Regions from separate parts of the Homo sapiens genome. Here region 1 is linked to region 2. Evidence: fine-mapped expression QTL. A gene starts in region 2. The other region holds a variant in brackets. All regions are shown on one strand. Distances are from middle to middle. Region 1 overlaps ZNF653 (zinc finger protein 653). Region 2 holds the start of ELOF1 (elongation factor 1).

The links. PIP is the estimated chance that this variant, and not a neighbour inherited with it, causes the effect.
Region 1: its variant is the best candidate, but not a certain one, in a credible set for the expression of ELOF1 in whole blood (TOPMed, PIP 0.81).

What each region holds. Positions count from the first base shown.
Region 1 is chr19:11,486,332-11,491,701 of GRCh38, reverse strand. ZNF653 (zinc finger protein 653) reads left to right here. Exons shown (of 9, transcript NM_138783.4): 4 at 3,799-4,410; 5 at 4,544-4,715; 6 at 4,822-4,933. Among named protein-coding and RNA genes, the nearest start is that of MIR7974, 6.6 kb to the left of the region's middle. The variant A/G (reference allele first, on the strand shown) is at 2,538.
Region 2 is chr19:11,556,501-11,561,870 of GRCh38, reverse strand. It overlaps ELOF1 (elongation factor 1), which reads left to right and starts at 2,641. Exons shown (of 4, transcript NM_032377.4): 1 at 2,641-2,680. RefSeq lists an enhancer at 1,023-1,317.

The DNA of each region.
Region 1 (5,370 bases), 70 kb after region 2:
GCAGGAGAATGGTGTGAACCTGGGAGGCAGAGCTTGCAGTGAGCCAAGATCGTGCCACTGCACTCCAGCCTGGGCGACAGAGCGAGACTCCATCTCAAAAAAAAAAAGAGGATTCAAGCCGAGGGAATGGCAGGTGCAAAGGCCTTGAGGCAGGAACCTATCTAGTGTCTCCAAGGACATTAGGAGAGGAGGCGAGGACAGGAGGTGATGGAACACCTCCTGAAACAGACGCACTCCAGCTCTCGTGACCTGGCACAGTGGTTTGTTTCCCACATACAAAGCCTGGTGCTTCCATCCTGCAGACTGCCTTTCATCCCTGGACCCAGGTTCTTTCCTTCCTATGGCTCCAGCCTCCTTGTGGGTCCTGGCTTACTGGTGGGGAGAAAAGTGGAGACTCAACCTTGGGAGCACCTGTCCACTTGCATTCCATTGGCTGGGACTCAGCCACATGGCCACACCTACCTGCAAGAGATGCTGGGAAATGTAGTCGGTGCTGGTGCCAGGAAGAGAGGGATTTAGTGAGTAGCTGGCCTGCTTCTTTCACAGGAGGTAAAGAGTAGGTTCTTAGGAGCCGGGGACCCAAAAGAAGGGACTGCACTGGCCCTGGCAGGGGGCCGGTGGGGCCGCAACTAGCATCTGCAGGGGAAGTGGGAGAAGCGTTCAGGCTGCGGGTGGATGTATTTTGGATGCAGCACCAACAGGTTTTGCTGACAGATTGGAAGTGGGTGTGAGAGAGAGAGAAGTCAACAAGAGCCCCAGGACTTTGGCCTGAGCCACTGGAGAGACTGAGCTGCCTTCCGCTGAGTCAGGGACACCCGTGAGCAGTGCAGGCTTTGTAGAAGGGAAGATACAGAGCCCAGTGTTGCAGATCTGAGTTTGAGATGCCTGTGAGACACTCTTAGGGGGCCAATGAGATGGAAGAATCTGGAGCTCGACATGGAGGTGTAGGCAGAAGCTGCAGATGGAATCACCAGGCCATGGATGGTTGTAGTAATAAGAATACATACTTGGCCAGTCGCGGTGGCTCACACCTGTAATCCCAGCACTTTGGGAGGCCAAGGCGGGCAGATCACCTGAGGTCAGGAGTTCCAGACCAGCCTGACCAACATGATGAAAACCCATCTCTACTAAAAATACAAAAAAAAAAATTAGCCTGACATGGTGGCGTGTGCCTGTAGTCCCAGCTACTCAGGAGGCTGAGGCAGGAGAATTTTTTAAACCTGGGAGGCGGAGGTTGCAGTGAGCCGAGATTGTGCCACTTCACTACAGCTTACACAACAGAGCAAGGCTCTGTCTCAAAAAAACAAACAACAACAACAACAGAACAACAAAAACCCTCTTGAACAGTCCCAGATTGGTGAACAGTTCCAGATTGAGATGCTGGGACGGTGGTACCCCCGGAGAGGGCATGGAAGCCCATACCATACCCCCGTATCTTGCCCTGTGCATCTCTTCCCTTTGGCTGTCGCTGAGTTGAATCCTTTGTAATAAAGCTGTAATTGTAGGTAGAGCCATTTTCTGAGTTCTGTGAGTTGTTCTAACAAATTATCAAACCTGAGGATGGGGTCATGGAAACCCCCCATTTAGAGCCCATTGGTCAGACATACAGGGTAGCCCAGGACTTGCAGCTGACATCTGAAGTCCGGCGGTCTTGTGGGACTGAGCCTTTAACTTGGAGGATTTGACGCCCACTCCGGGAAGATAATGTCAGATTGGATTGAATTATTGGACATTCAGTTGGCATCGAGAATCGGAGGGTGGCCTTTAACCCCATTAGCCTGGGCAAGCCTGGGGGTAAGGTGAGCGCTGAGGAGAGGCCCCAGGCCAAGCCTTCCAGGCCTGCAAGAACCAAATAAACTTGGAAGGAGCCACCAGGAAGGGCCCAGGATACCACAGCGTGGGTCTGGGGGCTAAGAGAGGAGAGTGTCCCCTGGAGTAGGGGTGGTCAGCTGGGTCAGTCATCTTGGAACAGTTAGGGACAGTGGGGATTGAGAAGTGACTGCTGTTTTAAGCAGTGAGAGGGTCACAGTGTCTAGCCCCTGAAGAGCCCTCAACAAATACCAACTGCTGGCCGGGCATGGTGGCTCCCGCCTGTAATCCCAGCACTTTGGGAGGCTGAGGTGGGAGGATCACTGGAGCCCAGGAGTTCAAGGCCACAGCCTGGGTAGCATAACAAGACCTGATCTCTACTTGGGAAAATCAGGGCCACACGAGGTGCCTCATGTCTGTAATTCCAGCACTTTGGGAGGCCCGGGCGGGCAGATCACCTGAGGTCAGAAGTTCGAGATCAGCCTGGCCAAAATGGGGAATCCCGTCTCTACTAAAAATACAAAAATTAGCCAGGTGTGGTTGCATGCACCTGTAATCCCATTTACTCAGGAGGCTGAGGCACAAGAGTTGCTTGAACCTGGGAGGTAGAGGTTGCAGTGAGCCCGGATCGCACCACTGCACTCCAGCCTGGGTGACAGAGGGAGACTCCATCTCAAAACAAAAACAAAATCGGGCCAGATGTGGTGGCTCATGACTATAATTCTAGC[A/G]CTTTGGGGAGCCGAGGTGGATGGATCACCCAAGGTCAGGAGTTTGAGGCTAGCCTGGCCAACATGGCAAAACCTCATCTCTACTAAAAACACACAAATTAGCCAGGTGTGGTGGTGCACGCCTGTAATCCCAGCTACTCAGGAGGCTGAGGCAGGAGAATCGCTTGAACCCAGGAGGCAGAGGTTACAGTGAGCCAAGATTGCACCATTGCACTCCAGCCTGGGTGACAGAACGAAACTCTGTCTCAAAAAAAAAAAAGAAAAACTCAGGCCGGATGCGGTGGCTCATGCCTGTAATCCCAGCACTTTCGGAGGCCGAGGTGGGCGGATCATAAGGTCAGGAGATCGAGACCATCCTGGCTAACACAGTGAAACTCCATCTCTACTAAAAATACAAAAATTAGCTGGGCGTGGTGGCGGTTGCCTGTAGTCCCAGCTACTCGGGAGGCTGAGGCAGGAGAATGGTGTGAACCTGGGAAGCGGAGCTTGCAGTGAGCCAATATTGCGCCACTGCACTCCAGCCTGTGTGACAGAGCGAGACTCCATCTCAAAAAAAAAAAGAAAAGAAAAGAAAAATTCAGCCAGGCACGGTGGCTCATGACTGTCATTCTAACACTTTGGGAGGCTGAGGCGGGCAGATGACTTGAGGTCAGGAGTTTGAGACCAGCCTGGCCAACATGATGAAACCCCGTCTCTACTAAAAATACAAAAATTAGCCGGGTGTGGGCCAGGCGCGGTGGCTCACACCTGTAATCCCAGCACTTTGGGAGGCAGAGGTGGGTGGATCACGAGGTCAGGAGATCGAGACCATCCTGGTGAACCCCTATCTCTATTAAAAATACAAAACATTAGCCGGGCATGGCGGCACATGCCTGTAGTCCCAGCTACTCGGGAGGCTGAGGTGGGAGAATGGCATGAACCTGGGAGGCAGAGCTTGTAGTGAGCAGAGATCGCGCCACTGCACTCCAGCCTGGGTGACAGAGTGAGACTCCATCTCAGGAAAAAAAAAAAAAGCCAGGTGTGGTGGCGCACACCTGTAGTCCCAGCTACTCGGGAGCCTGAGGCAGGAGAATCACTGGAACCGGGGATGCCAAGGTTGCAGTGAGCTGAGATCGCACCACTGCACTCCAGCCTGGGTGACAGAGTGAGACTCTGTCTCAAAAAAATAAATAAATAAATAAATAAAATAAAATAAAAACTAAATAAACAAATACCAGTGGCTGCAGCTATCATAACCACTCCCTTTCTTCTGTCCCCACAGTGGGCAATGGGCTGGTGGCTGGCAGCTCTGACTCATCCAGCTCTGGCTCTGCCTCTGACTCTGAGGAGTCTCCTGAGGGCCAGCCGGTCAAGGCTGCGGCAGCGGCAGCGGCAGCGACGCCCACCAGCCCGGTGGGCAGCAGCGGGCTCATCACTCAGGAGGGCGTGCACATTCCCTTTGACGTCCACCACGTGGAAAGCCTGGCCGAGCAGGGTACCCCGCTGTGCTCCAACCCAGCAGGCAATGGGCCTGAAGCCCTGGAGACAGTGGTGTGCGTGCCGGTGCCTGTGCAAGTGGGTGCGGGCCCCAGCGCCCTCTTTGAGAACGTGCCCCAGGAGGCCCTGGGTGAGGTGGTGGCCAGCTGCCCCATGCCAGGCATGGTGCCCGGCTCACAGGTGATCATCATTGCGGGCCCTGGTTACGACGCTCTCACGGCCGAGGGCATTCACCTCAACATGGCAGCAGGCAGCGGTGTCCCCGGCAGTGGACTGGGCGAGGAGGTGCCCTGTGCCATGATGGAGGGTGTGGCAGCCTACACCCAGACAGAGCCCGAGGGTAGCCAGCCTAGCACCATGGACGCCACCGCAGTAGCAGGCATCGAGACCAAGAAAGGTCTGGGGGACCTGTCGTGGCCTCTGGCCAGGGGTGGTTGGGCCTGGGAGGGGCCGGGCGAGGAATGGCCCTCGAAGTGGGCACCTCGGCAGCCTTCGTCCCCTGCGGACACCACCCTGTGTCCACCCTGTAGAGAAGGAGGACCTGTGCTTGCTAAAGAAGGAGGAGAAGGAGGAGCCAGTAGCCCCGGAGCTGGCAACAACGGTGCCTGAGAGCGCAGAGCCTGAGGCAGAGGCGGACGGGGAGGAGCTGGACGGCAGCGACATGTCAGCCATCATCTATGAAATCCCCAAGGAGCCTGAGAAGTGGGTGCCGGGGCGGGCAAGGGTGAGGGCGAGGGCTAGAAGCGGCCCGCAGGCCCCCAGCCTGCCTGGTGCGGGAGCCCCGATGTCATGGCCCCTTCCCCTCCAGGAGGCGGCGGAGCAAGCGGTCGCGGGTGATGGATGCTGACGGCCTGCTCGAGATGTTCCACTGCCCATACGAGGGCTGCAGCCAAGTCTACGTGGCCCTCAGCAGCTTCCAGGTGAGGCCGCCACCCGGAGCAGCCTGGGCCAGGCCCACAAGGCCCAGGCCATGGCACCACCAGGATGTCCTACCTCTAGTTTGCCCCTTGAAATTTGACGAGGTGTCCCTGAAGGCAAAGACAGGGACTTGTCACACCCCAGGACCTGGCATGGGAGGATGCAACAACAGGCCTTTGTGCCATGCCATGCATTGATTGAGCATGTATTAAGCACTTAGTGCAAGCCAGGCCTGCAAGCTGGAGCCAGGGTTGTTCTAGTAAGTTAAAGAGTGAAGGAACAAAGGAATGAATCAATTGGGGCTGCCTGTTCCAGGCCCACAGAGGCTGATAGCCCTCAAATCCAGTCCCAGTCCTGCCACTGGCCACCTGTGAGACCTTGGCCAAACCACAGAGCCTTGAACCTCAGTTTCCCCATCGATTAATTGGGCTAACAGCTG
Region 2 (5,370 bases):
ACTCAATGTCTTTGTTTTTTTTTTTTTTTTGAGATGGAGTTTCACTCTTGTTGCCCAGGCTGGAGTGCAGTGGCGCGATCTCGGCTCACTGCAACCTCTGCCTCCCGGGGTTCAAGTGATTCTCCTGCCTCAGCCTCCTGAGTAGCTGGGATTACAGGTGCCTGCCACCATGCCCAGCTAATTTTTGTATTTTTAGTAGAGACAAGGTTTTACCATGTTGGTCAGGCTAGTCTTGAACTCCTGACCTCAGGTTATCCACCCGTCTTGGCCTCCCAAAGTGCTGGGATGGGCCAGGCGCCGTGGCTCACGCCTGTAATCCCAGCACTTTGGGAGGCCAAGGCAGGCAGATCACGAGGTCAGGAGTTCAAGACCAGCCTGGCCAACATGGTGAAACCCCATCTTTACTAAAAATACAAAAATTAGCCAGGCATGTTGGCGCACACCTGTAATCCTAGGTACTCAGGAGGCTGAGGCAGGAGAATTGCTTGAATCCAGGAGGTGGAGGTTATAGTGAGCCGAGATCACGCCACTGCACTCCAGCCTGGGCCACAGAGCAAGACTCTGTCTCAAAAAAAAAAAAAAAAAAGCAAAAACAAAAAAGTGCTGGGATTACAGGTGTGAGCCACCATACCCGGCCATCATTTATTGTTTTTTATTTTATTTTATTTTATTTTTAGAGACAGGATTTCACTATGTTGCCCATGCTAGCCTCAAACTCCTGGGCTCAAGCAGTCCTCCCACCTCGGCCTCCCAAAGTGCTGGGGTTACTGGGGTGAGACACTGTACTCACAAATGTCATTTTTTGAAAACTATGCTTCACTAAAGATCCAGTCTTAAGGATACTGATTCAGGGACATTTACTGCATCATCACAGTGGCAAAACTCAGGAAAGTCCAGGAATTGTCCATCAGTAGGATAACCGTTGATTATACTATGGCAGAGTTGCACTATGAATCATGTAGCTACTAAAAACAAAAGTTAGGTATACGTGTATAGATGGTTAAGTGGAAATAGCAAGTTGCACGGTAACTGTATAGTATGATTCCATCCTGTGTGTATTCTAGTTTGCTCCAGCACTGAAAAAGGGTCTCACAAGAGGGCAGTTCTACTGGTTACACTTGACGGTTACCAGGGTAACACTGCCCCCTAGGGGATATCCTAGAGATCCCTCTACAGACAGCCCCTGACTTGATTATGATAGGTTTATCGGGATGTAACCCCATCGTAAATCAAAGAGCATCTGTATTCGAAATACATTTCATTACAAATTATCTTCCTGAACACTCTAATGCAACAGCTCTTATCAAGGTCCGCAGGGACCAGACCCTTGCCAAACTCAACTGTCAATTCTCTTTCCTCATCTTCTTCAACTCAGGGACACGTGACACAGCTAACCCCTCTCTCTCTCCATCTTGAAATATCTTTTTCAGGCCAGGTGTGGTGGCTCATGCCTGTAATCCCAACAATTTGAGAGGCCGAGGTGGATGGATCACTTGAGGTCAGGAGTTCGAGACCAGCCTGACCAACATGGTGAAACCCCATCTCTACTAAAAATACAAAAATTAGCCAGGCATGGTAGTGCGCACCTGTAATCACAGCTACTTAAGAGGCTGAGGCAGGAGGATCGCTTGAACCCGGGAGGCTAAGGTTGCAGTGAGCCCATATGGCGTCACTGCACTCCAGCCTGGGCGACGGAGCGAAACCCTGTCTCAGAAAAAAACAAAACCAAAAATAAAAACCAATAAAAGTCCTTGGCCGGGCGCGGTGGCTCACGCCTGTAATCCCAGCACTTTGGGAGACCGAGGCGGGTGGATCGCGCCTGTAATCCCAGCACTTTGGGAGGCCGAGGCGGGTGGATCACGAGGTCAGGAGTTCAAGACCAGCCTGGCCAAGATGGTGAGACCCCATCCCTACTCAAAAAAAAAAAAAAAAAAAAAACTACAAAAATTAGCCGGGCGCGGTGACCGGCGCCTGTAATCCCAGCTACTCGGGAGGCTGAGGTAGGAGAATCACTTGAACCTGGGAGGCGGAGGTTGCAGTGGGCCGAAATCGAGCCACTGCACTCCAGCCTGGGCGACAAAGTGAGACTCCGTCTCAAAAAAATAAAATAAAATAAAACAAAAATAAAAAATAAAAATCCTTAACACGGCCCACGAGGCTCCATGGAATCTGGCCCCAGCCTGTCCACTCAACCTCATCTACTACAATCTGGGCACTCAAAATGTGGTCTGCGGATCAGCAGCATGGAAGTCACCTGGGAGCGAGTTAGAACAGCAGCCTCTCAGGCCTCCCTCTTCATCTGCTGGATCAGAACTTGAACTTTTTAGTTTGAGTAGAGCGTCTTCCATGCTTACAAGCTTCCCCTTCACCCTGATTCAGCCATAAGGTTATTTCATATTCCTCACTTGCCGCTCCTGGAAACTGACCAGAAGTACTGGCATCGCGCGTAGGTACAGGCAAATACGCACCGGCTCTTGCGCAGGCGCACTGCGTCTCCGTCGGAGCGCTGCTATTTGAGTACGCGTGCGCTCAGAGGAGCGGCGAAGGAGGCAGGGCCTATTTGCTGGGCTGTCCGGGATGGGGGTGGCCGGGACCTGAAAGTAGGAGAGGGGTTTCCGCTTCCGGCAGGAGTCGGAAGTCACTATCTCCCGGGTGAACGGAGCTTTCGCAGCTGGAGAAGGTGAGTGCTGGTGCGGCTCGTGCGAGTGGGCGTTGGGGGTGGGCAGGACTGGAAGTTCCTCTACTCCGTGCGTTTACGGGGTCCTGGAGGAGGCTCCTGGGACCTCGAGCTTGGGGGAAAGCCGGTCGGGGAGACTGACTCCCCCCGACCCCATCCTTCCAAGCGCGACTACCGGGACGCCTGGCTCCTCCCGGCGGCCGTCGGGAGGCGATGCCGAAGCTTTAGTGAGTCTGGAGGAACAGCCAACCCCCCACCTCTTGGGTACCAGCAGATTCGGGGGATGACTCCTCTGCCATCCCCTTTTGGCGCTCTTGGACTTAACGTTGTCACAGGACAGGCTGAGGCCTCTGCATTCCTTGTGCAAGCCAGACCCCATTCATGGGATGGGGAGACTGTAGTCCCTGGGCAAAATGAGCTTCTGGGGCTCATCCGTAGATTTTGTTTGGACTTTTTTTTTTTTTTTTGAGAGTGAGTCTTGCTGTGTCGCCGAGGCTGGAGTGCAGTGGCGCGATCATAGCTCATTGCAGCCTCGACCTCCTGGGCGCAAGCTTCCCACTTCAGCTTGCCGAGTAGCTGGGACTACAGACTCAAGGCTAATTTTTGTAATTTTGTAGAGATGAAGGGTCTCACTCTGTTTCCCAGGCTGGTCTGGAACTCCTGGCTTCAAGCGATCTTCCCACCTGGGCCTCCCAAAGTGATGAGATTACGGGCGTGACGTCCCAAAGTGATAGAGTTACAAGCAAACTGATTGAGTGATTTATTCAGTAATGGTTATTGCTGGGCACGGTGGCTCATGCTTGTAACGCCAGCACTTTGGGAGGCCGAGGCGGGAGTATCTCTTGAGCCCAGGAGTTCCAGACCAGGCTGGGCAACATGGTGGGTCCCTGTCTCTACAAAAAATACAAAAATTAGCTGGGCGTGGTGCCGCGGCTAATTTATATTTCAGAGGTAGAGGGGCAGGGGGAGGATCGCATAAGGAATGTGTGAGGGAAAAAGACATTGAGGATGAATCCAAGGTTTCTGATTTGATTATCCGGAAAGATGGAATTGCTGTTAGCTGAGATGAGGAAGACTGGAAGAGCAGGTTGCAATGTCAGGGGCTTGGTTTTGGACATGATATGTTTAATCTTAGGTGGAAGTTAGACATCAGGTGGAGGTGTGGCTGAGGCAGATAGATCAGAGTCTGCAGTTCAGACTCAAGGCTGGAGAAGCAGGTGGCCTCAGTGTAGAGTAGGCATGAAGCCCTAAGACTGGGTGAAATCTTCATGTGGTGAGTATAGCCAGAAAGGAGAGGATCCAACAATTAAACTCATGGGCTTTTTGCTCTGTTGCCCAGGCTGGAGTGCCTCGGCTCACTGCAACCTCCGCCTCCCAGGTTCAAGTGATTCTCCTGCCTCAGCCTCCCGAGTAGCTGGGATTACAGGCGTGCACCACCATGCCTGGCTAATTTTTGTATTTTTAGTAGAGATGGGGTTTCACCATGTTGGTCAGGCTGGTCTCGAACTCCTGACCTCGTGATCTGCCCACCTCGGCCTCCCAAAGTGCTGGGATTACAGGCGTGAACCACTGCACTCAGCCTTTTTTTTTTTTTTTTTTAGATGAAGTTTTGCTCTGTTGCCCAGGCTGGAGTGCGGTGGCACAATCTCAGCTCACTGAAACCTCCGACTCCCAGGTTCAAGCGATTCTCCTGCCTCAGCCTCTCTATTAGCTGGGATTACAGGCATGTGCCACCACGCCCAGCTAATTTTTGTATTTTTAGTAGAAATGGGGTTTCACCATGTTGGCCAGGCTGGTCTCCAACTCCTAACCTCAAGTGATCTGCCCACCTTGGCCTCCCAAAGTGCTGGGATTATAAACGTGAGCCACAGCGCCTGGCCCAAACTCACGTGCTCTCTTCATTGGAGCAAGTTGGCAGAGAGGCAGGAGCATAGGAGACTAGCAGGAGCCACCAGTGAGGCAGAGGACAGGGAGCACATGGCATCCTGAGAGCCACATGTGCTCTCAGGGGAGGAAGGACCTCTGGAATGGGAGGACTGCCATTGGGATTTGCAGTATGGAGCCACCAGTAACCTAAGTTTGGAGGCAAGGGGTGCAGAGAGATGGGTGGGAATGCAGATGGCTGTACACTAAAACAGCCTGCAGAGAAAAGGATCATAGCTGGAAGAGGATGAAGAGTTTTTTTTTCCCCCTTTTTAAATGAGGAGAGAGGTAATAACAAGTGTGTGAGAGTGATCCAGTGGAGCTGGAAAATTTGATGTTGCTCAAAGAAAAGGGGATGGGAGCCAGGGCAGAATGAACAAATTGTTTTTGCAGGAACTTACTTCCATAGTAAAGGAGGCATGCCGAAGCTGGGCATGGTGGTGCACACCTGTTGTCCCAGCTACTGAGCAGGCTGAGGCCAGAGGATTGAGGCTTTAGCAAGCTGTGATCATGCCACTGCACTCCAGCCTGGGCAACAGAGCAAGACCTCATCTCTTAGATAAATAAAGAGGGTGGGTGAATGGCTGAATGAGTTGGTCCTAGGAGCTGTCTTTGGATTGCTTCTATTTACTCAGTGAACTGGAAGCATCACAGTTAAGAGTTGGGGGTGTTGGCTGGGCGTGGTGGCTCACGCCTGTAATCCCAGCACTTTGGGAGGCCGAGACAGGCGGATCACGAGGTCAGGAGATCGAGACCATCCTGGCTAACAC